3 separate regions of the Homo sapiens genome follow, and all the other regions are linked to region 2. Evidence: fine-mapped expression QTL. A gene starts in region 2. Each other region holds a variant in brackets. All regions are shown on one strand. Distances are between the middles of the regions. Region 1 holds the start of DRC11L (dynein regulatory complex subunit 11 like). Region 2 holds the start of SMARCD3 (SWI/SNF related BAF chromatin remodeling complex subunit D3). Region 3 has its middle 25 kb from the start of SMARCD3.

Evidence for each region.
Region 1: its variant is fine-mapped to the expression of SMARCD3 in whole blood (TOPMed, PIP 0.99).
Region 3: its variant is fine-mapped to the expression of SMARCD3 in whole blood (TOPMed, PIP above 0.99).

The regions. Positions count from the first base shown.
Region 1 is chr7:151,202,969-151,211,138 of GRCh38, reverse strand. DRC11L (dynein regulatory complex subunit 11 like) reads left to right here and starts at 5,643. Exons shown (of 19, transcript NM_001304419.2): 1 at 5,643-5,695; 2 at 6,303-6,630; 3 at 7,625-7,744; 4 at 8,043-8,170. The coding sequence starts at 5,685. ABCF2-H2BK1 (ABCF2-H2BK1 readthrough) reads left to right here. Exons shown (of 17, transcript NR_160983.1): 16 at 1-22; 17 at 3,032-3,302. It overlaps H2BK1 (H2B.K variant histone 1), which reads left to right and starts at 651. Exons shown (of 2, transcript NM_001369125.3): 1 at 651-952; 2 at 3,032-3,302. The coding sequence starts at 821. The coding sequence ends at 3,268. The variant A/G (reference allele first, on the strand shown) is at 5,025.
Region 2 is chr7:151,245,156-151,253,325 of GRCh38, reverse strand. SMARCD3 (SWI/SNF related BAF chromatin remodeling complex subunit D3) reads left to right here and starts at 4,632. Exons shown (of 13, transcript NM_001003801.2): 1 at 4,632-4,841; 2 at 7,655-7,866. The coding sequence starts at 4,764. RefSeq lists enhancers at 202-1,111, 6,391-6,964, 6,965-7,539, 7,540-8,113, 8,114-8,170 and silencers at 3,972-4,061, 6,109-6,403, 7,478-7,557, 7,578-7,877.
Region 3 is chr7:151,269,782-151,277,951 of GRCh38, reverse strand. It overlaps a transcript of SMARCD3 not described here. Among named protein-coding and RNA genes, the nearest start is that of SMARCD3, 25 kb to the right of the region's middle. RefSeq lists enhancers at 1-329, 2,483-3,282. The variant G/A (reference allele first, on the strand shown) is at 4,043.

The DNA of each region.
Region 1 (8,170 bases), 42 kb after region 2:
GACCGCCACGTCTGCTTTTCTGGTGAGCACCTATTGCTTTTCTGCTTCTCACCTCCTCCAGTGGTCTTCCTCCCTGTCAGCCTCTTCACCACCTGGGGAGCTTCTGCTATCTGCATCTAGTCCAGGCTCAGGCGTTTTGCTCATCTGCCTTCAGTCCAAGCCTCATTATACTCCGCTCACACTGATTCCACTCTACCTTTCACACCGTTTCTTTCTCTCATTCTTCCCAATTAAAGGATACATCCTACAAGGATACATCCTACAATGGGTATATGAAGGATACCCTTCATATACCCATTTGTACCAAGAAGCGGCCTCTAGCTACTCGAGCCCTCCTCACCATGGGTACCACCACTTTTAGCCCCTTCACCCTTCTCTGGTGGTTTGATGTGAACCAGTCTTGTCTCTTCACCTCCACTGGGGCGCAGTGGGGGAGGGAGCTTGCATTCCTTCTGGAGTCTGCAGCACTCTGAGCTGTGCTGGCACCTGTGTGCTCCGTGATTACAGGCTGGTGGGCTGGAGTTGCCTGAACTTTTAAGAAGTGCGTAAATACACTGGGAGATGGTTGGGTGGGGGAGGGGACCCGGTGAAGGGTTTCTTAATTCAGAGGGATTACTTGTGGGAGAGGAAGGAACAATTAGTCTCTTTTCAAGGTTAGCCCAGAGCATGTTCAGGATTGGGATTGAGTCACGCCCCTTACCTCCCACCTGCCCCCCCCCCCCCTCCCAGGTGCATGTCCCCAGCCACACCTGGTGGGGCAGCTGACTTGATAAAAAGTAGCTCCAAGGGGGTGGGTGAGGGCTATTCGAGAAGCAGGAGGATGAGCGCTGAGTATGGACAGCGGCAGCAGCCCGGGGGCCGTGGGGGTCGCAGTTCTGGGAACAAAAAGTCCAAAAAGCGCTGTCGGCGCAAGGAGTCCTACTCCATGTATATCTACAAGGTGCTGAAGCAGGTGAGTGCATAGCAAGGATGTGTGTGAGGGATGCCCTCACAAAGCGCCTTGAAAGGGCACTGGCTGGAAGTGGGGACCTTGAGGTTAGTGTTGGCACTGGGGCAAGTGGCTCAGGCAGGCCTGGCCCCTCTTGAGGTGGCGGGACCTGGTTTTTGAGGTCTCCACCTCTCTCAGGATCTTGGGCACCGGTGATAGGAGACAAAGCGTGCTCCCTGCCACCCTCCAGAAGTTTACGGGAACGATGATGAGATAACGTGATTAGGTGGGACATAATTAAAGGACAAGAGGACCACACTTTCTATGCCAGGCTGAAGGTGATCAGGTGCCAAACACATTATGATACAAAGTGTGTTGGTGACCGAGAAGAGGAGTGATCAGGGTGAACTGGAGTCTTGGGGAAGGTCTTCTGGACAAGTGGCACTCAGTTCTTTGAGGGGCTTAGGGTTTGTCCACCTTATAGACAAACAGCTTGAGGCCCCTAAAGGCTCCATGGGGTTCCTGCATCACATGGCCTGACAGTGGCAGTGTCCCAGTTCCCCTGGCTCTGGGCAAGCCCCTAGCATCCTTCCTGTGTGTCCGTCTCCCCAACACACTGGGGCTGCAGGTGCCCTATATTCATGCACGAAAAGCAGCTACTCCCAGGACTTGGAACACTGACAATCAATTTGTCTGGAGGATCCAAAGCTGCTGCTCAGCAGGGCCAAGGCCAGGAGGAGGCGGGGGTAGCCATGTGTTGCCCGCCCTGGGTCTCCAACCTGCTTGAAACTCTTACCCCTCTGTTAGAGCAGGCCCCAGAGGTAATGCCTGTCTCCAGTCCAAATCCCATTAGCGGTTTAGTGAATTGACAACCTGGGTGCCTGGGAATGCTCTTGTGGGGTTGGGGGTGGGTGGGTCCAGCACTGATATGGGTTGGCTGAAGAGATGCACCAGAGGACAGACTCTGGTGCCCTGAAGAAGGTGGGGTAGGAGTGGGTATCGCTGAGCCTTGTGTCTTAGCCCGACTTTGAGGGGCAAAAATTGCAACTGATGGGTGGGACAAGGCCTGTACTCACAGAGGAGAGTGCTGCTGAGGGCCAACCCCTCAACCTCCTGATCTGGGTGAGAGCTCTAAGGAGAACGGGGTGTGCTGACAGCAGAGGGGGTTTGGGCAGAACTAGCCTTGTGCCAGGTGCAGATTTGCTGCTGGCAGTGGAGACCAGAGGTGGCAGGGAGGGCGGGTGGGACAGAGCCTCCTGGTTCTAGTGCTGTTTTCATCTCTGACTCCATGTAGGTTGTGGGACAGTCACTTCTCTCCCACTTCACATCTGACCAGGTCTACCTACTCACATTTTAGAACTGCCATCAGTTCCCATTTGCTTTAGTAGAGATCACTTAGTTCAAAAGCTTGTGTGACAGAAGAGGAAACTGAGGCCCAGAGGAAAGGGCCGTATTTGAGGTCGTAGGGATTCACAGTACAGCTGCAGAACAGGACTCCTCCCCTGGTCCGGGGCTGCGACTGTGTCACATGGACAGGCTCACTGGTTATGTGCTCCACCAAGTTATATGCACAAACGTTTTGACACTACAGTCCCGCCTCTGGAAATAACCTTCCCTATGCTCGCACAAGATTCAAAGATGGGCATTTACCATAGCACCATCTAATAGCAAAAACAACAAAAAACACCCCAAACCCAAATCCTGAATATTCGTGAAGAGAGGAATGGTGTTAGGAAGTATGATACATCCATACCGTGGAACACTATGCAAATGCATCAGTGAAACCAGCAAGATGCATGTGTAACTGGTCCCATTTGTTAAATACAGATGCTTGTGTGTGCTCATACAAGGAGCTTAATCATGTTACCTCCTGCAGTTGAAAACTTCTTTTAAAAAACTTAGATATACCATAGCAGTACAAAGAAAACACAAATCCCTATTTCCATGACTGTTGGCCTCTGGGAAGGGGCTGGTGAGGAGCCTCCTTGCCTTCTGCCTCTGGCTTCCTAGAGCCCCCAGCTCAGGGCTGAGGCTTGCAGTGTAGGCAGGACCCCCCCTCCCCTGGCCCCTTCCATTAACCGAGTGGTGCTGCCCTCTCTCCAGGTGCACCCTGACATTGGCATCTCTGCCAAGGCCATGAGCATCATGAACTCGTTTGTAAACGACGTGTTTGAGCAGCTGGCGTGTGAGGCTGCCCGGCTGGCCCAGTACTCGGGCCGGACCACCCTGACATCCCGAGAAGTCCAGACGGCTGTGCGTCTGCTGCTGCCTGGGGAGCTGGCCAAGCACGCTGTGTCTGAGGGCACCAAGGCTGTCACCAAGTACACCAGCTCCAAGTGACCCAGGGCCTGACAAAAATAAAGGGTGAACTGTTTCTGTGCCCTGTGGTGATTTGAAAGAAGGGTGTGTGAGGCCAGGGTGTGGTCTGGAGCCAGGGTGTCCTCACTTCGAGGCTACCACAGGTGGAGCAGCACTTCTTCAGATGTCTTAGAAACTGCTTTCTAGGTGTATCCCGTGAGCAACGTGTGATAGCTTTGTAAACATGCGAATGTTCTATTTGGTAGTGAGCTGAAATAGGACCTGGGACTGGACTAGCATCTGGATTTACCGCCAGCTGATTCCCTCTTGGGGCCTGAAATTCCTCCTGTATGGTCCTCTTTCAGGCTGTGTCTTCGCGATGTCATTTCCCACCAACTGTCATTGCATCCTGTACGACAGGCACTGTTGTGTGAAGGGGCCACACAGATCTATTCAAGATATAAAAACTGAAGGCCCAGATCGGCTTCTAAATAACCTGCTGAGATCAGTATGATTTTTCAGTTTCCCCTTTATTTCGGAACAAATCAGTGGGGATGTTTTTGAAACTCCTAACATCACCAATTTTATTTGGAAAAATTTGAAACCCACAGAAAAACTGCAAGAAGCACCACGGCCACGCCTATGTCCTTACCTAGATTTACTGCTCACCACTTAACCACTTGCTTTTCCTGTCTCATGCAGCCTCTGCTTATCTTGTGGGCACATGACCCATAAATCCTCTTCCAAGCTTGGACAAGATGAAGGGGTGGGATTTAGACAAACCTCCAATCCTTTGTGCCGTTTGTAATTGGACAGACCTGGCTTGTGGTCTCCTTCATCTCCACATATTGAAAAGGCATCGCCTTGTAGTAATAGCTGACGTTCAGCGGCAGCTACCTAGGTCACGTGTATTTTCTCATACCTCGAGCCTCACCTTGAGGTTCTGTGAGCTGAGGACTAATGATCCACGTTTACATTCACAGTTAGCAAGAGGCAGGCCCAGGAGATCTGGCCCCAAAGTCTCACTCCTGCCCACTCTGCCCTGTGTTCACACCTTGCCCTACCAGGCATGACCCGGGCCAGCAGGAGCCAAAGCACCTGGGAGCTTGTTAGAAAGGCAGGCTCTTGGGTCCCCCCTCAGATCTGGAGCAGAATCTGTTTATCTATCTATCTATCTATCTATCTATCTATCTTTGAGACAGAGTTTCGCTTTGTTGTCCAGGCTGGAGTGCAGTGGTGCCATCTCTGCTCACTGCAACCTCTCCCCATCCTAGGTTCAAGCGGTTGTCCTGCCTCAGCCTCCCGAGTAGCTGGGATTACAGGCATGTGCCACCAGGCCTGGCTAATTTTTATATTTTTAGTAGAGATGGGGTTTCACCATGTTGGCCAGGCTGGTCTTGAACTCCCAACCTCAGGAGATCCGCCTGCCCTGGCCTCCCAAAGTGCTGCGATTACAGGCATGAGCCACTGCGCCCAGCCTGGAATCTGCATTTTAATGAGACCCTCAGGTAGCTCATAGGCACCTTCGAGTTCCTCCTCTTTGCTCCTCCTTGCCGCTATCTCCCTTCTGTCCGTTTCCCTGGCCCTGTTCCTCTTAGATTTACTTATTCATAAGCCTCGACGTGACACTGAGCCAAAAAGCTCACCCCAGCTGACCAGCCTCAGGCTGCTAGTGGTATAATATTTTGTCTTTTTGGAAAAATTATCTCCTGAACTTGTAGCAGTGACGGGAGGTGGTACCCACAGGTGACCAAGTAAGCCCCAAGCATGCAGAACAGCATCCACTATACTTTCTAGC[A/G]TGATGCTTCACACGGGTCTGGCTCATGGGAATGGTGTGAACTCTTGGCAGGCCCCAGGGAGGAAAGCATGGTTATGCTCACTTTCACCCAAGGGGGCAACTGGGACTTCAGGGCCTTCTGACTCCAAATCAGTGCCTTTCCCCTCCACCACATGGGCTTCCCCGTGCTGTCATCCAGAGAGTGAAGGAGGGCTGTGGGGCTCAGGAGGCGGGGGCTGAGAGAAGGAACAGAGGCCGCTGAGAGTGAGAAGCTGCGGTGATGCCTTGTTAGGGGGTAATGTCTTTAGGACAGATGTATCCAGAGCGCCAAAGCTTTCAGGGGACTTCAAATAGAAACTTATTTTACTTGTTCCTTACAAGAAAAATGGCCAAAGTTGGACAACATGTTCTGCCCTAAGCTTCCAAAGCTTGCTCTGCGGGAGCCTGCAGCCACCCACCCACAGTCCCTTCAGCGCGCTGCTCCCAGGACGTCCTCCGAGATAAATGTCCCCGATTCTGCACCCACCAGCCCCCTCGCCTCAGCCCTAGAACACTGGTACAATGGGTCAGAACTCTTAAAAACAGGCTGTTCTGCCCTGTGGCCCTGGAAGTCAGGGAGCCACAGAGGTTCTGTGAATTCCACCACCAGCAAACAAGGGGCAGCGTGGAGGAGTGGACACAATGTCTGAGGGGTGAGTGAGGGGCTGGAGTGGGGCTCCCAGGGCAGAGACAGCAAAGGGCAGAGCATCTCCTTAGTCCTGAGAGGCAGGGGCAGAGTGGCGGTTTGGGCACTGGGCCACCCCAGCTGCTGCTGCTGCCCTGGCAGCTTTCACTGTGGAAACTTCCCTCCGATGGTTAATTCCAGAACCAGGGCTCTGCTTGGGGAAGGGTCCCTCCTCCACATTCATCCCTCACCCCCACTTCCCATCCACCAGCCCAGATCACTGCAGCATCCGTGGGCTGCCCCACACCTGGAGGGCCCCACTGCCCCTGACTCCCAAAGACCCCTTCCTTACCAGAGCCCCAAGCCTGGGCTGGCTTTCCCCCAAACCCCCAAAGGTCATGCCCATTCTCTCTGCTAATCCTACAGCGGAGCCCAATCCCACACTCTCCCTAAGACCAGGTCGGTGTCCACTCATTGCCCTGCGGGCTCCTTACCTCATTGAAGTCCATTTAGGAGCCATGAGTGACATCACACCTTCTGGTACCCCGAGCCCACACTCCTCAAAAGGCCAGGCTGCTCCGTCTCCCCACTCCTCCGTGGCTCAGAGCACGCGGCGCCCGCCACCCTCTCCCCAGAGCTTACCAGCGCCTCTGGGAGTCCTCCCACGCGACCCTGCAGGAGCTGCTGGACCAAGAGCAGCTTCTGCTCGAACCTGCGCCCGACCGGGAGCGGCAGTCCTTCCAGTACAGGCTCGCATCGCTCTACCTGCACTACCTGGGGCTGCTGCGCCGCTTCGACACCGTCTATGACCAGATGGTGCAGCCGCAGAAGCGGCGGCTGCTGCGACGCCTGCTGGACGGCGTGGCGGGCCGCGTGCTGGAGCTCAAGGACGAGCTGGTGCGCGCCGACCTGTGTGAGAACCACTGCCTGGACCGCGTGCTGCAGGATTTCAAGCTCACCCCAGTACGTGTGCGCAGCCGCGAAGCCACGCCCCCAGCCAGCTAGCGGGAGGGGAGAGGTGGGGTGGGACCGGCCTTGACCACCTGGGACACAGAGCCACGCCCTGGCCAGCTTGGGGTCGGGTGGGGTAGGGATGGGGCCGACCACCCCTGCCTACCCGCCACCCCACGGATATCCCTGGTGTTGGGACAACTGCTAGGAAAGGAAGGAGGGCAGAGAAGATCAGAGGATGGGGTTTGGCCTTGTAGGAAGGGCTTCAGGAACCTTGGCGGTGGGGGGTGTGCATGGAGGTACTTAGAGGTTGGATGGAGTCAGGGTGAGGTCCCCTGCATGACTGGGAAGACCCACGAACCGCAGGGAATTGGTGAGGAGAGTCCTTTAGAGCCTCCTCAAAGTGTGGTCCCTGGACCAGCAGCATTGACATCACAAATGAGAAACTCTGAATCCCTAACTCACTAAATCTGCACCTGCATTTTTATCAAGACCCTCCAGTGATCTGTGTGCACGGGCAAGTTCTAGAAGGCTGTTCTAGAGCACAGAGCTTCTGCGGCGCCTCCAGTCCGGCTCAGGGTTCAGTAACTGCTTCATATCCAAGACTATCTCAAAGTTTCCCCAACCAGCTGCAGCAGTGCACTTGGTCGGGGGTGGGGGCGCAGGGAAGATTCCCCAGGTCCTGTCATTCTGATGTAGTAGTCTGAGGAGGACCTAGGAATCTGCATTTAAGAGCTTCCCAGTTGATTGTGATGCACAACCAGGTCTGAGACCACTGCCACCTACCATGAGCCTCCAGAATTCAACTCCAGCCAGAGGATGGGGGCAGAGGAAGAGAGGAGTGGCTCTTGGGGGTATCTGCCCCATTACCCTTTAAGTTTAGTCAGGACTCTAAAATGGAGGAAAACAGTGCTGGGGGTGTGTAAGCCCCTAAAAATGGTAACGGATCGGCCAGATGGCTCAGACTTTTGATTCCTGACCCTCCTCCCCCAACATTGCTCCAAAGGCTGACCTGGAGGTTCCAATCCCCAAATACTTCCTGCTGGAGCAGTCCACCACTGTGCGGGAGCGAGGGCTGATACTGGCCGAGATCCTGTCCAGACTGGAGCCAGTGTCCTCCCAGAAGGTAAACGGGGGTGACACCCTCCCAGACTCTTCCATACCCCATCTCCTGAAAGACTCCAGAATGCAGAGAGGCCCCTCCCTGCTCTCTACCAGAGTGCCCTTTAGGTAATCCCTGGCCTCCTTCAAGGCTGTTCTTCTGCTGATGGTAACCCTCCAACGCCAAGACAAGACTTGGCCTCCCAGATACTCTGGGAGGATGGTGTCCTGGTGCATCCTTTGATGGCTGGTCTCCCAGCGGCCCACCCTGGATGCAAGCTCTCCCTCATGTGCTCCTGCTCTTTTGCCCCTGCTCTGGCCAGAGCTTTACAGGAATGCACCGGACTGAGGCCATAATTCTAGTGCAAAAGGCAGAGCGGGCGAGGCAAGGCCGGCTTCGAGCCACCTTCATGCGAGAGATTCGAAGAGATGAGGAGCAGGATGGGAGGAT
Region 2 (8,170 bases):
CTACTCTGAGGGGAGGACGGAGGGAGTGAGTGGGAGGGCCGCGTCCCTGAGGACCCCATAGAGGAGGGGGTGCTGAGCTGGGACCAGGCCTCACTCATGGTGAGCAGCCCCCACTCACTCGGTGCGGGTCTGCTTCCCGGCACAGCTCCGTCGCTCTGCTCCCTCCCTCTGTCCCCCTCCTTCCTCCCAGTCTGCCTTGGTTCCTGCCTCTGTCTTAGGAAATTCTTGGATTTCAGAGCTGGAAGGGCTCTAGGAATGCTCTGACTTAAGCCTCTCCTTTCACTTCTGAGGACACTGAGGGACAGGGAGGTACAGCGACTTGCCCAAGGTCGCACCATTATTTTGGTGTCCTAGTTTTTCTTTGTTTTTTGCTTCTATATATTGCATTTGTCTCTTTCGTGTATGTTTGCAAAAGTGACACAGAAAGACAAAGTCACACAGAGAGACAGCCCCCTTGATAGCAGCAGAGAGTGTCGGGGGTACAGAAACATCCCAACACAAACAGGGAAGCGCACAGCTGCCCTGGCCTGGAAGCAGCATGGGGGCAGCCAGGAGGAGGAGGAGGAAGGTGCCTGATGCCCCTGGCCTGGCTTCGGAGCGTCCCCTCTGCTGACCGTCACCAGAGGCGGGGGTTGAGGTAGTCTCCCCTCCTCCCTCTCTGGAGCTGGGCGTGACCCCAAGGACTAGCCAGAGGTCCCCCGAGGCTGGTGCTTAGCCCGGGCAGGTAGGCTGGATGGCGGAAAGTGGGGCCTGGTTTAGAGATGGCCAGAACACCGAAACCAAGGCTTTGTGGTCCTCACAGCGCCAAGTGGTCTCACTTTCTCCCTCTCTCTTTCTTTCTCTCTCTCCCTCTCCTCTCGCGTTCTCTCGCTCTCTCTCTCTCTCACACACACACACACACACACTCACTCAGGCCGCCCCAGTGAGGGTGATCGTATTCTCCTAAGGAGAGCTTTATTGCTGGGGGTGTAGGGAAAAGGGAATAGAGGAAAGAGCTCTCTCCCAAGCAATCCGTTCTCCCTCCAGTCTCGCTTCCTTTGTTCCTCCCTTCCCTTCCTCCCTATCCCCTCGCCAGCTTCTCTTCTCTCCTTCCAGCCCCTTCTTCCATGTTCCCCGCTCTCCTGCTCCTCCTGCCGCGCCCCCCGAGCGGAGTCCCCGTGGTGGGACCTTCACGGAGGGCAGGAGGGCGGGACTGCGGCTGGGGCCCGGCCTAGGTGGCCATCTTCCCGCAGGGAAGGAGTTAAGTCTCTTCCCCGCATCCCTCCTCCCTCCGCCGCCTCCCCGGCCGCCGCGGAGTCCTGCAGCTGGGCCCCGGGCTGACCTTCACCGGGAGGGAGGCCGCGGCGCGCATGCCCAGGCCGGGGACCGGCGCGGGCGGAGGGAGGGGCGGCGCGGGCCGGGCCGGCCCGAGCCCCCCCAGCTCCCCGGCCGCCGCCCGCTCGCTCGGGCGCGGTGGGGGCGAGGCGGCCGAGCCCGTCCCGCAGGCCGCGGCGCATCTCTCCCTGCGCGGGGAGCGGCGCTTTGCCATTTGGTGCTGGTGGTGCTTCAGCGAGGGAAGGAGCGATGGGGGGACGGCAGGGGGGACTGCGGCGCCGGGCGCCGGGCGGCCGCCCTCGCCCCCGACAGGCGCACGGCCTGCCCCAAGTGCGGCGGGCGCCCTATTGCGCTGGGAGGAATCCACGCTCTTCCCGGGCCTCCTTCCCACCCGCAGGAGCCATCGGCGGCGTGGCACACCGAGCGCCCTTCTGGGGTTAAGCCACTGGGGATCCTGGCCTTTGTGAGGAGGGAGCCCTGGCCCGGGCCCCCACACTGGCGCCGCCCCAGCTTTCTGGTCTGAAGGCTCCTCCTGTCGCCCACCTAAAAGCAGTACGCAAATGTGTCTGGGCCTGCCTTGTGAATGGGGCCCACCACGGGATGTGGAGGTGCTCAAGGTGTGCCTGTGTGTGCAGAGCCATGTGGCTTCCTCGACCTTTTGGTGCTTGTATTGGTGTGCCTGCTGTGTGTGTGTTGGGAGGGTGTGTGTGCAAGGTGTATCTATTGTCTGTGTACACTTAAGGATGTCTCCCAGAGGGGTGGCTCAGGAGAGCGCTTATGTATGGACTTGGGTGAAGCTCACCAGCTCCTCCACAGGGGCTTCACCATAGCCCCTCGTCTAACTACCTCCCGCAACCTCTTCCACCACCAAGACCAAGCCCGGGATCTCCCAGGCCCTGCCTCAAACTTCCCAGCTACCCAAACTGGAGTGCCCAGCATCTCCTCTGCTGTCTTCTTTTCCCAAAAGGTCTCTCCAATAGTTGAGAACACTGAGCTTTAACAAAGCCTAGGGGTGTCTATCTCCAACCCCCAGAACCTCCAAGGCCTGTGGTTTCCCATGCCCCTGCTAGACGCACCCATGGTGGGTGGGGGTGCCCATGGTAACTCACACCATCAGGTAAATGGCAGAGTACCAGCTCCATGCATTGGCTCATTAAGCTTTGCAAGCATCAGGTATCTGGGGTACTGTTGAGTTCCTGTGCCCAGGCATGGAGGAAGAGTGGGAGTTAAAGATCAGTCTCTGACCTTATGGGGACCTTAGCCTCTCTGGGAAAGCAAAGCTAATGTCCTTGAAGCACAGTGCACGTCAGGCCAGTCCAATGCCAATTCATGGTGCTGGGTAGATGGCAATGAGCATTTGGAGAAGAGAAAAATCTTTGCATACAAGTAGGACGAAGGAAGGCTTCCTGGAGGAAGTGGGGCCTGGGCTGGGCTTTAAAGAATAGGTGTGATTTGGACAAGCAGAGGGAAGGCAGAGGGCAGGCAAAGGGCATTCCAGGTAAAAGAATCGGGGGCAGGGGCTAAGAAATGGGAGTGAGCGGGGATTCTGGAGGTTAGCAGGCAGACTGGGCAAGTCACTTCCCCAGGTTCCCAGCAGCATGACCTATGGCAGACAGAGGCAGGCCACCCACCCATCCCCACCGTGTCAGGGCCCAGGCTCTGTGTGTGGGGGTGTGTGGGGGGTAGTCTAGGCTAAAGCCCTGGGAGAGATTTGGTAGCAAGGGGATCTCTAGGTCCCCTTTCAAGCTAGGGGTGGTGGAGGAGCAACCTGGACCAGATGTCCTCCCTGACATTTCAGATTGACAGTGGGCACCTAAATGAACAGTGACAGCCAAGAGCACAACCAGGGCCAGCAGAAATCAGGCTGCAGGCAGAAAGGACCCCCTGGGCAAAGGCATTCTGAAGGGTTTAGGGTCAGTACCCTTCAGTCTTCAGGGCCCAACTTCAAGTAAGTGTTTCAACAAACTCCCCTAGGCACTAGGCTATGGTCCTGCCCTCACCTGGATTCTCACAGTGAGGCCCCAGCAGACCCCCAAACTTGACCCAAGGGCCTTGTTCCAAAGCCCACGGCTCCTCCCCAAGAAGGAGAAAAAAGGGGCGTGGCCTTTGGGGACCTGGGTAGGCCCAGGACTCCCTGCCTGGGTATGTCAGGATTTGCCCCTCCTCCTTCCGGTCCCTCCTCCACTCCAGGGACTGCCAACTCCTTCCACACGCCCCTTCTGGGGCTCCCTTGCCACCCCACGCCACACCCCAGCCTCAAGACCCCTCTCTTTGGGGTCTTGAGGCCGGCCCAATATACCCACTATACCCAGCCCAGCTGCCCCAACTCCTCTGGGTCCCCTAACCCCACTCCACCCCCACCCCAAGGAAACCAAGCCCAGCTTGCCTCGTTCTCTCCACGCACCCACCCGAGCACCCCCCTGGCGCTGCGCCATTCCCCACATTCATTCTCTTCCTGTTCTCATGAGCACAATCCCTGTCCCTCTTTCTGAAATACTTCCCCTATTGCCCTCACTTTCTCACAGAGCGGCAAACAAAGACTCACATACCCAGAAATAGCCTCTCACAGAGCTGAAAGGCACAGGCCATGTCCTGCCACACACGCAGGCGCGCGCGCACGGAGGCTGTCGTGGAGGGAGGCACACATACAGGGCGTCTGTCTGCACGCACATAAGCTGCCACGCCACAAAAGGGCGCGGACACACACGGCGTGTGAGACAAGGGCACACACAGCAGTGGACGCAGGGCCACGCCGCCGCCCGGGCACACCCACCGCCGCCGGCCCCGGGCAGGCGCGAGGCCTCGCGGGCCGGGCTCCCCCGGTTCCTGCCAGCGAATGTTTCCCTGCTCGGCCTGCCAGGTCTCTGGGGAAAGGGCCTCAGAAATGCAGCAGGAGCCGCTGGGGGAAAAGTTGGAACTGACTGTTCCCTGCCTGGCGCGGCCGGCGAATTCCCTGACGGAGAAACTATTTGTGGCGAGAGCCGGTGGCCGGCGACCCCCCGCCGCCTCCCCTGGCGTCCCCTCCCCGCGCCGCCTCCCGCGGGCCTCGGCGGCTTCGGGCTGCAGCACTGCTGCCCAGCGCCCGCGGCCGGGCTGGTCGGCGCGCCTCGCCGCTTATCTGCGCTGTTTGGACAGCGGGCTTGGAAAGGCAGGCGGCCCCGTCCCCGCCGAGTCAACAGGCAGACCCCGGGCCGCCGGACTATTTCTGTCTTATCAGTGCAGGAATGCGGCAGCCGCGGCGGCGGCGGCGGCGGCGGGCGGGCGGCGGCGGCGTGGGCCGTGGGCCGTCAGGGCAGCCCTGAAGGGGCCCCCTCCCCACTCCGCTCGAGTAGAAGTGTGAGAGAGCCCAGCAGGACTCAGAGGGGAGAGTTGGAGGAAAAAAAAAGGCAGAAAAGGGAAAGAAAGAGGAAGAGAGAGAGAGAGTGAGAGGAGCCGCTGAGCCCACCCCGATGGCCGCGGACGAAGTTGCCGGAGGGGCGCGCAAAGCCACGAAAAGCAAACTTTTTGAGTTTCTGGTCCATGGGGTGGTGAGTGGGGGAAAGTTAGCGGGGGAGGGCAAGCGAGCTGGCTCGGGCTGAATGGAGGGCTGATCGGGAGGGGCCGGGAGGGCGCTCCCGCTCTCCCACCCCTCTAGTGGGGGGCGTCATGGCCCACGGCCCGGCCGCGGGACTGTGCTGGCGCCCTGGCACCCGAACACGTCGCCAGGCGGCCGGCCGGGTCTGACGCGAGGCGGGGAAGGGAGGCGTTTGCATGGCTCTTGTCAGGGGCGGGGGTGGGACTTGGGGACTCTACCCCCCAAGTAGGGGGTCCTCGCTGTAGCCGACAGGTTGACTTTCGTTCTTTTCCTTGTGGGCCCAGGTGTTGCCCCTGCCCTGGGGGTGGGGGTGGGGGATGGGGACATGGCAGAGGCTGGGCTGGGCTGTCTGTTCATCCGTTGGGACAGTGTCACTGCTTGTGTCTCCGGAGCAAGGAGCAGGTGACCCTGGAGGCACTGTAGCGGGAAGCTCGCAGGCTGAGCCACCTCTGCATCCCAGCGGGAGGGCTCTGGAGCTTCTGCCTTAGGGTGGGGGAGAGGACCGCTCTAGGGACTTAGCCCAAGTTAGGGGCTCTGAGGGTCTCCTTGGCGGACTCAGCCACCAGAAGCTGATGTCCTTAACTCCTCGAACATGTGAAGGAAGGGGCTGGAGTTGGGGACATGAGGCCTAGAGACCGAAGGGACAGGGGAGCACTGTCCTGCCACAGGCAGGCTGTGAAGGCACGTGGGAGCCCGGGAGGCTGGAGCTGAGTCAGTAGGGCCCGGCTGGGAGGGGTATGGAGGGGTGGGGAATGGGAGAAGCAGGGGCTGCGACTCTTGGGATGGGTGAGGGAGTGGAGGCCCTGTGTAGAGGAAGCTGTCGGGTTTACTATGGCCAAATTTGGTTGTGACCCCAAGGAAGACACCCTCTCAGTAAGGCCAGAGTCCCTAGGATTTTGGCCTTTCATGGGGATGGGGCTGGTGGCGGGCACAGCTCTCTGGGGGCTCTGAAAGCCTCCCTCTCAGGGCCTCTTCAGCAGATGGGCCAGTATCCCTGGCCTTGATAACTGGGGAGAGCAGCTGACAGGAAGAGGGGGACTCCCTGGAGTGGCCTGTCCTCCAGCCCCAGGGACCCCTGGGGGTAACTTCCCAAGGTGTCCATGTCAGCTAGCTGAGTTACCAGTCCTAACCTGGCTGCTGGTGGGAGCCCCTTTAAAAAGGCCCATCTAGTGGGGAGAGGCTGTACACGTGGACTGTTTTTTTAATCTGGTCAACTTACAGCTTCAGTTCTTGAGTGGCTGTGAGCCCCAGTGCCCCACCTAGCTGGTGGCCAGGCCTGGGCTCCATTCTGGGCTGCTACCCTGGAGGCCTGAGTGACAGGGTCAGGTGGGGTGAGGGAAGCAGACACATGGACAGGCAGGTTTCACTGCAGGAGAGATAGGCAGAGACAGCTGCTGACCGAGGGTGGGAGGACATTAGGGTTAGACACAGAGCCTGGAGGACCAGGAGGGAGAGGTAGCAGTTGGAAGGAAAACAGCAAGCCCAAGGGGGCCCCTCCTCATGCCTGGGGGTGAGGTGGGTGGTGTGTCCATGTTAACAGTGCCAGGGTCTGCATCCCCTGCCCTCTGATCTTCTTCCTGCTTTCGTGGTCCCAGTCCCCATCCCACCCCGCTCTTTCTGTTTCACAGCCCCTGAAACTCTCTCTGGCCCTCCCCATCTCCCTTCTGGAGTCTGGACAAGTGGGGTTTGGAACACTTCGCTCGATGCATTTGCATCTCATTTACACCCCATCTGACCACCCAGGGGTAGTGGCAAGGGAGGAGGAGCCGCCTCCTCTCAGTCTCCACAGCCCCCATGAACCCTGACTGCTGACCTCACTGGGGTGGGGATGGGAAGAGGAGGAGGTGGCTGCTGACCTGGGCAGACAGGAAGGGAAATGTGAGTGCAAGTGTCACTGCCCTGACCCACCCCAGGCCCCCCTGGGCAGCCCACCTCTAACGCAGTTCCCCTCCTCCCAATCAGAGAATCCTGGCTGTGTCTGGGGCGCCCCAGCAGGCTGCCCTTGCCTGCCCTGCCTCCAGCCCTCACCCTGGGAGCAAATTATGGGGGCAGCTTGGTCAGCGAAGACCCTGGATGTGGGGACTTGGAGTCAGCCGAGGGGAGTGGGGTTTGGGACCCAAGGGTCAAAAGCAGGGACACAGGGAGCAGAGTGGCTGAGATGAGCTAGTGAGTACCAGGCAGAACCGCCCAAGAAGTGGAGCCTGAGAAGGAGGAGCAGGAGGAGGAGCAGAAGTCGGAGCAGGGAGCCGGGTACCGGACCTCAACCAAGCCGCAGAGAGCAAAGCCCTGGGCCCCCAGGAGGCAGCCCTTCAGGGGCTGCCTGGGCCAGGATGAGCTGTGTGACCTTGGCGAGGTCATTTTTCTCCTTGAGCCACAGTGGCCCCATCCGTCAAGTGGGGATGAAAGGACCTGCTCAGGCTGTCTTGCAGAGGAGCATGTGGATGTGAACATCTTTGAAAGGTTGAAAGGCGCCATTAATATTCATTTTTGCGGTACCTTCCGCAGCCCCGAGGCTCGCAATGCCCTGTGCGGTGCCTGGCTTCAGTTAGCTTCCTGCAGCCAGACGCCAAGCCCCTCCGCCAGAGCCGCGCAGATTCCGGCGCCCCTGCCCCTCCTACCCATCGCTCCCACCCATCGCTCAACGCTCAGGGTCACCAGCCGAGGGTCTGGTGGGGGAGGGGAGACGCCGGCTCACCGCGCCTGGAGCGGGGGGCCCTGGTCTGACCCACGGGCGCCCGTTTCTGCTTCACCCCCGCCCACCCCCAGCGCCCCGGGATGCCGTCTGGAGCCCGGATGCCCCACCAGGGGGCGCCCATGGGCCCCCCGGGCTCCCCGTACATGGGCAGCCCCGCCGTGCGACCCGGCCTGGCCCCCGCGGGCATGGAGCCCGCCCGCAAGCGAGCAGCGCCCCCGCCCGGGCAGAGCCAGGCACAGAGCCAGGGCCAGCCGGTGCCCACCGCCCCCGCGCGGAGCCGCAGGTGAGTGGGAGGCCCGGCGAGGAGGGGGCGTGCAGGGGCGGGCCCTGGGGGACCCGCAGGGACCAGGTAAGCGAGTAGCGGGGATTGGAAGGGGCGAGGAAGAATGATTAGCAGGGAGCGAGGCTTCCCGGGTCGAATGCCCTCTGGGGAGGTAGGCTTAGGGGGCACCGGCCTGATTCTTTTGTGTGCCCACGGTAGAGACAGGCTGCGGCGTCGGCAGCCGGTACCGCTTCCCTGCACGCTCCCCTCACCCTTCTCCTTGTCACCTGCTCAGTCCTTCTCTCCACCCATCAGGTTCTGGGTG
Region 3 (8,170 bases), 25 kb before region 2:
GGTCCCTGCTGCCTGCCTGCCTCCTACTGGGGGCCTACGAGGCCCACCTGGCCCCAAATGCTTGGCAGGCTCCCTGCCCGCTGGCTGCTTAGGGAGGTGCTCCCACTTCCCCCGCCGTTGCCTGAGCTCTCTAGGGCTCCTTCACTCTGCAGGTAGGCTGGGGTCCCCCTCTGTGCTGGGCACTGTGGTAGCTCAGCCGTGTGAGGCGGGGCCCTGGAAGAGCCCATGAGATGGCCAGAGCTGGGCTTGTCTGGCTGGAAGCTGGGAATAGGCTTCTCCAAGCTGCCAAATTTAAGTATTGAGTACATAAAAGGAGGAGATTGGCATTAGTGAGAACATGGCCCTGAGGCTTGATGGACCCAAAGCCTCCCAGGGTATGTGCGTTTTGAGGGGGTGGGGGGTGCACATGGGTGTCCGGGACCTCGTCTAGGTAATGTCTGCAGCCACATAGGATGATCTGACTGAATCTGTGTGAGGACAACCGTTTGTGTGCCTGTGTGTGCGCGCCCACGTGCATGCGCGTGTGTGGTCCTAGTGTAGGTGATGTCTGCGGCCACACAGGATGCTGACTGCGTGTGTGACTCGTGGGCGTGCAGATGCAAGCACAGGCCTACGACACATCTGTGTACAGGCTGAAGATCACAACGGGTCTGGCCAGGGCCCGCCGAGGGCCTCCGAGCTGGCGAGCACACCGACGGCTGGATGGGGCGACGCTTCCTGCTCCGGTCCCTAACTCATTATTAAGCTCCTCGCTCTTTGCAGACGCTCCCTGCGCCTCCCCCGCTCCGGGCTGCAGCGGCGCAGGCGCCGGGCCGAGCCGAGCGCCGAGCAGGGAGCGGGCGGCCGCGCTCCGGGCCGGGGTCCCGGGGGAGCAGGTGAGCGACCCGCGCCGCGCGGCCCCCACGGCCCTTGGCGAAGGCGCCTCCCGGCCGCGCTGCGCCGGCGCCCCCGCCTTCCCTGCCTGGCAGTCTCTGCTCGCCTCTGTTGGCATCCTCCTCCTCCTCCTCCCCCCTGCCTGGCATCCCCCTCCTCCCCCTGCCTGGCATCCCTTCTCCTCCCTGCCTGGCATCCCTTCTCCCCCTGCCTGGCTTCCCCCTCCTCCCCCTGCCTGGCTTCCCTTCTCCCACTGCCAGGCATCCCCCCTCCTTCTCCTGCCTGGCACCTTCTCCTCACCTGGCACTTCCCCTCCTCCCTACCTGGCATCCCCTTCTCCCTTCCTGGCATCTTCCTCCCCTCCTCCTTTCCAGGTATCTCCCCCCACTCCTGACTCTTTCCGTCCCCCCGCCTGGCACCTCCCTCCACCCCCACCCCAACCTCGTACCTCTTCCTCCTACCCCTTCCTTGCACCTCTTCCCTGACTGGCAGACTCCCATTCAGCCCCTCTGTGACACCACCTCCTCCCCATCGCTGCCTGGCATCTTCCCCTCCTTCCCTCTCCAGTACCTTCCTATCCTCCCTCCACCTGCATCTCCCCTCCTTCCCTCGTCTGGCACCCTCCTGCCTGGCACCTTCCCCTCCTCCCCCTGTCTGGCACCACCTCCTCCCATTGCCTGTCACCTCCCCCCTGCCGAGCACTTTCTCAACCTGCTCCTGCCTGGCATGCTCTGCTTCCTACTCCCCCTGTCTGGCACCTTCCCTCCTTCCCCTGCCTGGCATCCTCTCCCTCCTTCCCCTACCTAGCACCTTCCCATCATTCCCCTGCCTGGCACCTTCTCTGTCTCCACTTGGCCACCGTCTTCCCTGGATACCCCTCTCCTATTCAGGTTGTCCCTCTGTCCCCCACCTTCTTGCAGGGCACCTCCCCCCCGACCCTGGACTGGTAGCCCCTCCCCTACCGCATCTTCCTCTCCTCATCCTCCCCTCCCACTCTGTCTCCCGGACCCCACCAGCTCTCCCATCCCCAGCACTCCCTGTCTCCAGCCTCCTCCTTCCTCATCCCCTTTCCTCCCAACCCTGCTCAGGATTGATCCATGGGCAGCAGCCTCTTTTGCTCACATGGCTTAACCAGACCCTGAGCCACTCCCAAGCCCCACCTCTGTCACCCACACCCCGCTCCTACAGCACTGCTCTCTTCTTAGCTCCCATGCCCCACCGTCTGCTCAGGGACTTCATTTCATAAGTTGGGTCCTGACCCAACGAGCTGGAGGCCTTCCTGCTCTTCCAGCAAGGAAGGAAGCAGGGCAGGACAGGACAGAGCAGGCACTAGCAGGGACCAGGAGGGAGGCGCCTAGGCCAGCTGGTAGTCATGGAGCAGGCTGACTACCTGCCTGCCACCTCTGGAGTCCCTCCATGCCCCTGGGCTCCAGGGCCATCCCAGTTACCATCCTGACCTGCCCTCTGGCCTTTGCCTCCAATGCCCAGCTCTCTCCCTCCAACCATTGCCACACCCCCAAAACTGGCCTCTCCAGTCAGGGCTTGGGCTCTGCCTGGGGTCCCTGCTCTGTCTTTCAAGTTCTTTGTCCCGCAGGACCCTGGGGCCGGTCTCTGTCTGCTTCCCACACATACTGCTCCCACCTGCGCCCTGCCTTGTGCCACCCCAGCCCCAGCTGGCCCATGCTGGTTGCCTCCATCCTAGGCCCTTTTTTCTGCACAGTGTCCTGGCTTCCTCAGACCTCCACTCCGGGGAGTTTGGCTTCTTCGCAGCTTCCCGAGGCCTCCTTGAATCTACGCTGGGGCTCAGGGTCTGACCTCTCCTTTCAGATCCTCAGAATGGCCCTTGGTGCTGCAGGCGCGGTGGGCTCCGGGCCCAGGCACCGAGGGGGCACTGGATGACTCTCCAGGTGCAGGACCCTGCCATCTATGACTCCAGGTCTTCAGCACCCACCCACCGTGGTACAGGTAGGTGCTTCCTCCCCTGCCAGCCCAGGAGCAGAAGCTCTGGGGCCCCATGGCGAGTCGGCCAGCCCTCGGCTCCTGCTCCCACCACATGGCCCCCTCCCGGCATTTCTGCCCCCAGCTGGACTCCTTAGTGCCCATGGCAGGGCCTCTCTGTCCCTCTCCCCACCCCTGCTGACACCTGTCATTAATGTCCTTCCCTCCATCCCACACTCCCTTTCCTGCGTGTCCTCTCACCTCCTGGTGTCCTTAGGTCCTGCCTCTCAAAGCCTTTCTGAGCCAGGGACAAGCTACCTGAAACCAAGTTTTGGGTTCATGTGAGCATGGTCTGGGCTCTGGCATGCTCTACTTCCTCCCCACCTAGACAGCCAGACAACACCCCATCTCCTCTCACTGCGTACATGAAGAAGCGTGCACATACGTGCACATGCTCACATGCACACACACCACATGCTCTCTGCGAGCTGGAAGGAACCTGCTGATTCCTTGGCACAACTTGTGCTCAGAAACCTCTAAAAACCCTCAGGGCCCCAGGCAGGGTTCCGCTTGTGGCAGGAGGGAGGTGGCAGCCGTCTACTGCACAGCCCGCAGTGGGAGCCAACCCTGCCCTGCCCCAGGCGGACCTCTAGCTCTGATGCACTCTGGGCCATTGCTTGCTTGTAGGGCCTTCCTAAGCCTCCTCCTCAAGGAGTGAGAGGAAGATGGTCTGCATTTGTCCGCATCAGTCCCCACTTGTCCAGAAGGACACACTGAGGCTCTGGGCAGAAAAGCCACCTGCCCCAGAGCCCCAGCTGGCATGGTAAGGGGTCGGAACTGAAGTCTGGTCTGAGCTCTGCCTGCCCAGCCCCACCCATCATCACGCTGGCTGGCCTCACCGGTGGGAGGCACCTGGCAACAGGGTGGGTACTGGCAGGGCCTCAAGGTATGTGGAGCCCAGTCCCTGTCCTCAGGGCCTGCGGCCTTGGAGAGCAGCCTTGACAATTGGGCACAAAGGGCCACAGACCACACAGGCCTCAGAGCACTGAGGAGGGAGACATCAGGAAAGTCCTGGAAAGGTGCAATTGGAAATGGCCCAGAGGAGCCTGAGGCTCGGGGAGGCCTGGGGCTGTGGGCAGAATGAAAGTGCTTTCTCTGCTTCTCCTTCCTCAGAAGTGGGCAGAGGAACTCATCCTCCTGCCAGGCTGCTCTGAAGGCCAGGGACAGCCCC[G/A]TTCCCCTTCAAACTGCCCCAGTGCCCCTCCTCCTCCAGTGAGGTGCAGGCCCAGGGCAAAATGGGGCAGGGCACCGGCTTTTGGGGAAGCTGGCCTGGCCCAGAGGATCCAAGCCACACAGGGCAGCAGCAGGCACCAGTCACCTGGTACCCATCACCAAGGAAACACACCTGGTGGCGGCATGCCCAGCCCCACACCTGAAGCCCCAGTCCACCTGCAGGAAAGTCAAGGCCTCCAAGCAAACGTCCCACCCTTATCCCCAACACCTCCCCAGCACCTGAGGTGAACTGGGGACTGGTTGCTCAGTTTGTGGTGGTTGGTGTTTTAGCTGAAATTCATAAAGAAAAGGTGAGAACTAGTATATTAAACCAAGCACTCTACAGTTCTGGGGTGTCTGAGGTTAGAGGCCAGGTTGAACGGGGGGCAGGCTGATGGGAGGCAGCTAAGCTTCCTGGAGGGGTGCACCTGAAGTGGTCCCCCACGTGGAGAGTCCTCCTAATATTTGACATGCCCTTCGTTAGGCCCTAAGGGGCTCCCCAGCAGCAGTCGGAGGGAGCCTTGGGCTGTTCCAGACCTTTCCTGAAGGGTCACTGCAGGATGGGCACAGGGGAAGGAGGGCAGAGGAGGCCTGTGAAGATTGGAGCTGGAGCCCTGGGGCAGTAGGTCCATCCTAGTGACACCTGGCCCCAGAGTGACCCTGGCCATGAGTCAGAAGCCCCAGCTCCAAGAGTGACAAGGTGGTGGAAGTTTGGCATCTTATCTTGGAGTTGCATTCACATGCAATCGGCGGTGTGCGTTGCAGGCTCTTGGCAGCCAGGCAGGCACTTGGGCATTTGGATGCTGACAGGCCCTGGTGCTGGTGCCTAGGCGTCCGTCCTCACCCCAAAACTGGCGGTGTGACTGCAAGTGAGTGCTCATGATTAGTGAAAATTAAGTGGTGGAGATAATGAGCTAGAGGTGTCACTGGGAGGAGGCTGAGCCACCCATCGGGGATGAGTGGACTTCCCTCAGCTGTGGCTGGACTCCTAACCATCTGGAATTGCTGTACCAGAGGGGCCAAGCTGAGGCCACCGCCTGCCTCTGACGGGTACTTGGCTGAGGGACATCTTGTAGGGACCATTGCTGTGTCCCCCTGTGCTCCTTGCTAATGAGGGGTGTGGGAATCCTTGGTGACTCATAAAGGACCGTAGAGGAGGGCTGATCACTTCAGCCAGGCCCACATTTTGGGATAGCGCGTTCGGTTTCTTGACTTTCCAAGCTGTGACACCGATTCTTGGCACTCTACACTTACTTCCAGGGATTTGAGAACGTGCCTCATGAGCGTGCGCCCCACACAGGCCTCCTACTGCAACTTACAAACTTGGACCATCTCCCATGTGAACCTTTTTCCCAGACTGAAGATCGTTCTGGGAAAATGCCCTAGAGTGAGGGACACTGTGCCATAAGGGAGGGAGAGGAAGACACAGGGAGGTGTTCTTATGCTCCGCCTCATCCTGAAAAGGGTTTCAGGTAGTTTGCAAAGATACATATAGTGAGGAAACTGAGACAGAGATAGAGTAGAGAAAACATGGTGTTGCCTAGGATGTGGCTACTGCACCAAATGCAAACCACGAGGCCCAGAGACCCCGATGCCAGCAGAGAAGCAAGCAGTTACATGATTTACACTGTGCATGAGATAAAAATCAAACAACTTGCTCAAATCACGTGATTTCTGGTCCCGAGCCACTGGGAGGTCTCTCCTGTATGAGGAAATGAAGGGGATACCATGTGACAAAGTTATGCAATGTTCTCAACAATGTCACAACTGCTTCCTAGGGCTAAGGCAAGGACCAACACAATACTCCCCAGCCATAAACCTACTGGTAATATTGCTTAACCCAAACTTAAAATTTGGAGCAACTAGAGGAATGCATTGCTACCTTCAGGAAATACCCTCTTTCTCTTTTGTAAGAGACAGAGTCTCACGCTGTTGCTCAGGCTGGAGTGCAGTGGTGTGATCATGGCTCACTGCAGCCTCCAACTCCTGGGCTCAGGCGATCCTGCTTTAGCCTCCTGAGTAACTGGGACTACAAGCGTAAGCCACAATGCCCCCTAGCTTTTGTTTGTTTTGTTTTTATTTTAGTAGAGATGAGGTCTCACTATATTTCCTAGGCTGGTCTCAAATTCCTGGGCTCAAGCAATCCTCCCACTTCAGCCTCCCAAAGTGTTGGGAGGCATGAGCCATCGAGCCTGGCCAGGAAATACTCTCTATATTGATATTTACAACAATGTTTCTGATAAATATCAGGCAGCAGGAAGGTTTATTTAAAATTGGAAATTAAGTACAGAGTCACATTCTCCAGGTAGGGGTAATATCCTTATAGGAAATAAAGAGCTCCTTAAGCACACAGGCCCCACAGGTGAGTTTGGGTATGAGGAGGGACCAGTCCTGGTCTTTCCCCACAGGTCCTGAACCCATGGAAAAACAGGCACAGGCATCAGTTAACTTAAGTGCAAGGAAATTCAAGCTGAAGAGAGGCTTGAACCTGAGGCCCAAGTGTAGAAGGCAGGTCCTACTCCCTAACCTGGGTTTGCTTACCTGGGCATGGGAACAGAAGGAGATGATCTGTGTCCTAAAACAGACTCGTCTAGAAGAGGAATGCTGGCCACAGGGTAAGCAGCCTTGCCTTCAGCACCTTCACCCCACCCGCCTGGGAAAGGGATTGTGCGGCTGGTGCAGGCCCTCACCACCTCATCAGACAAAGCCTCCTCCCACAGGGAGGAAGGGTGGGGAGAGGGCCAGGGTCATTCCAGTATCTCCTCTCCTGGGAATACAGTACATGTTTCCTTGTGAACACATGAAGACAAGGGAGTAGGGCCCCTCTGCAGTGGGGTGGATGGGCCACATTGCTAAACAGTGATATTGAGGCTCAGGTCCAGACCTGAAGTGACCAAGTCCACCCCCTTTCTTACCTCTCCATTGGAACAACTGCCACATCCTTTTATTTGATTTTATTTCCTAGATAAGTGTCAATTCCATCTGCTTCTGATTTCCCACGTCACTGCCCTGGTCCACACACTGTGATCTTCTGCCCCCATCTGAGTGCCGCATACTCAGCCTTGTCCCTGCATCAGACCCCGGCCCAGCACAGTAACGAGAATGGGCTTCCTAAACACAAATCTGATTTGTTCCGCCTTCCACTTCCTAGTGGCTTCATTCTCGTGCCCTCACTCAGGGCCCTCACACATGCTGTTCCCTGCACCTCCGACACCCTTCCCAGCTCCCTTCACCTGGCTAACTGCACTCATCCTTGAAGCCTCCACGTCAGTTCCACCTCTTCCAGGGAGGCTTTCTCCCACCCGGCTTGGGCGTGAAGGCCCACCCACTCTCTTCTGTCTTGCAGCACCTACCAAAGAGGCTAATACTGAGTTGCAGGGCTCCTTAAAGGCATGGCTGCATCTGTCTTGTTCCACACAGTACAGAGAAGTATTTCTTGAATGAATGAGCAAATGTGTGAGGCAGTGGACAGAGAGGGGGTGGCTCTACGGCTGATTCTAAAATGAGCCCCAGATCCCTCTTGGTGCTGTCAGCCTCACCCTCTCTACACCACCACGATGCAAGAGTGGGCCTTTCTTGCCTGCCAACCTTGTCCTGCTGTCGCCTGAGCTGCCCTGTGCCCCGCGTCTCCCTCCTGTAACTCCGTGGTTGGAGGAGTGCTCCATGCTCATTCCCTCTTCAGTTATTCCTATGGTGAGGGAGAATGTCACTCCCTCTGACCTTGGGTTTGCCTTTTGGAGTTGCAGGGAGAAACCCCTTTCTCCCTCCAAGCCATCTGACCACCTTTCAACATTTGGAGGCAGCTTTCGCACAGGCTCTGTCTCCGCTCGGAACATCCAGCTCTGGCTCTTTCAAATATTCCCAGCCTTCGTGCCCCCTGGGGAGCGCTGAAGATCCCCCAAGGCCATGGCCCACACTTGGAGCCACCTGTGCCTGTGCTAGAAGGTGAGCTCTCCCTTTCCAGCCAGGCAGATGGGGAAGGGGTACTCAGTTTTCTGAGTGACATGTCTCATCTGTAGAATGGGACATCATGCCCTTCTATAAAGAAGCAATGGTGATGGCGGACCTTCTGCACAATGCCTGCGTTCAC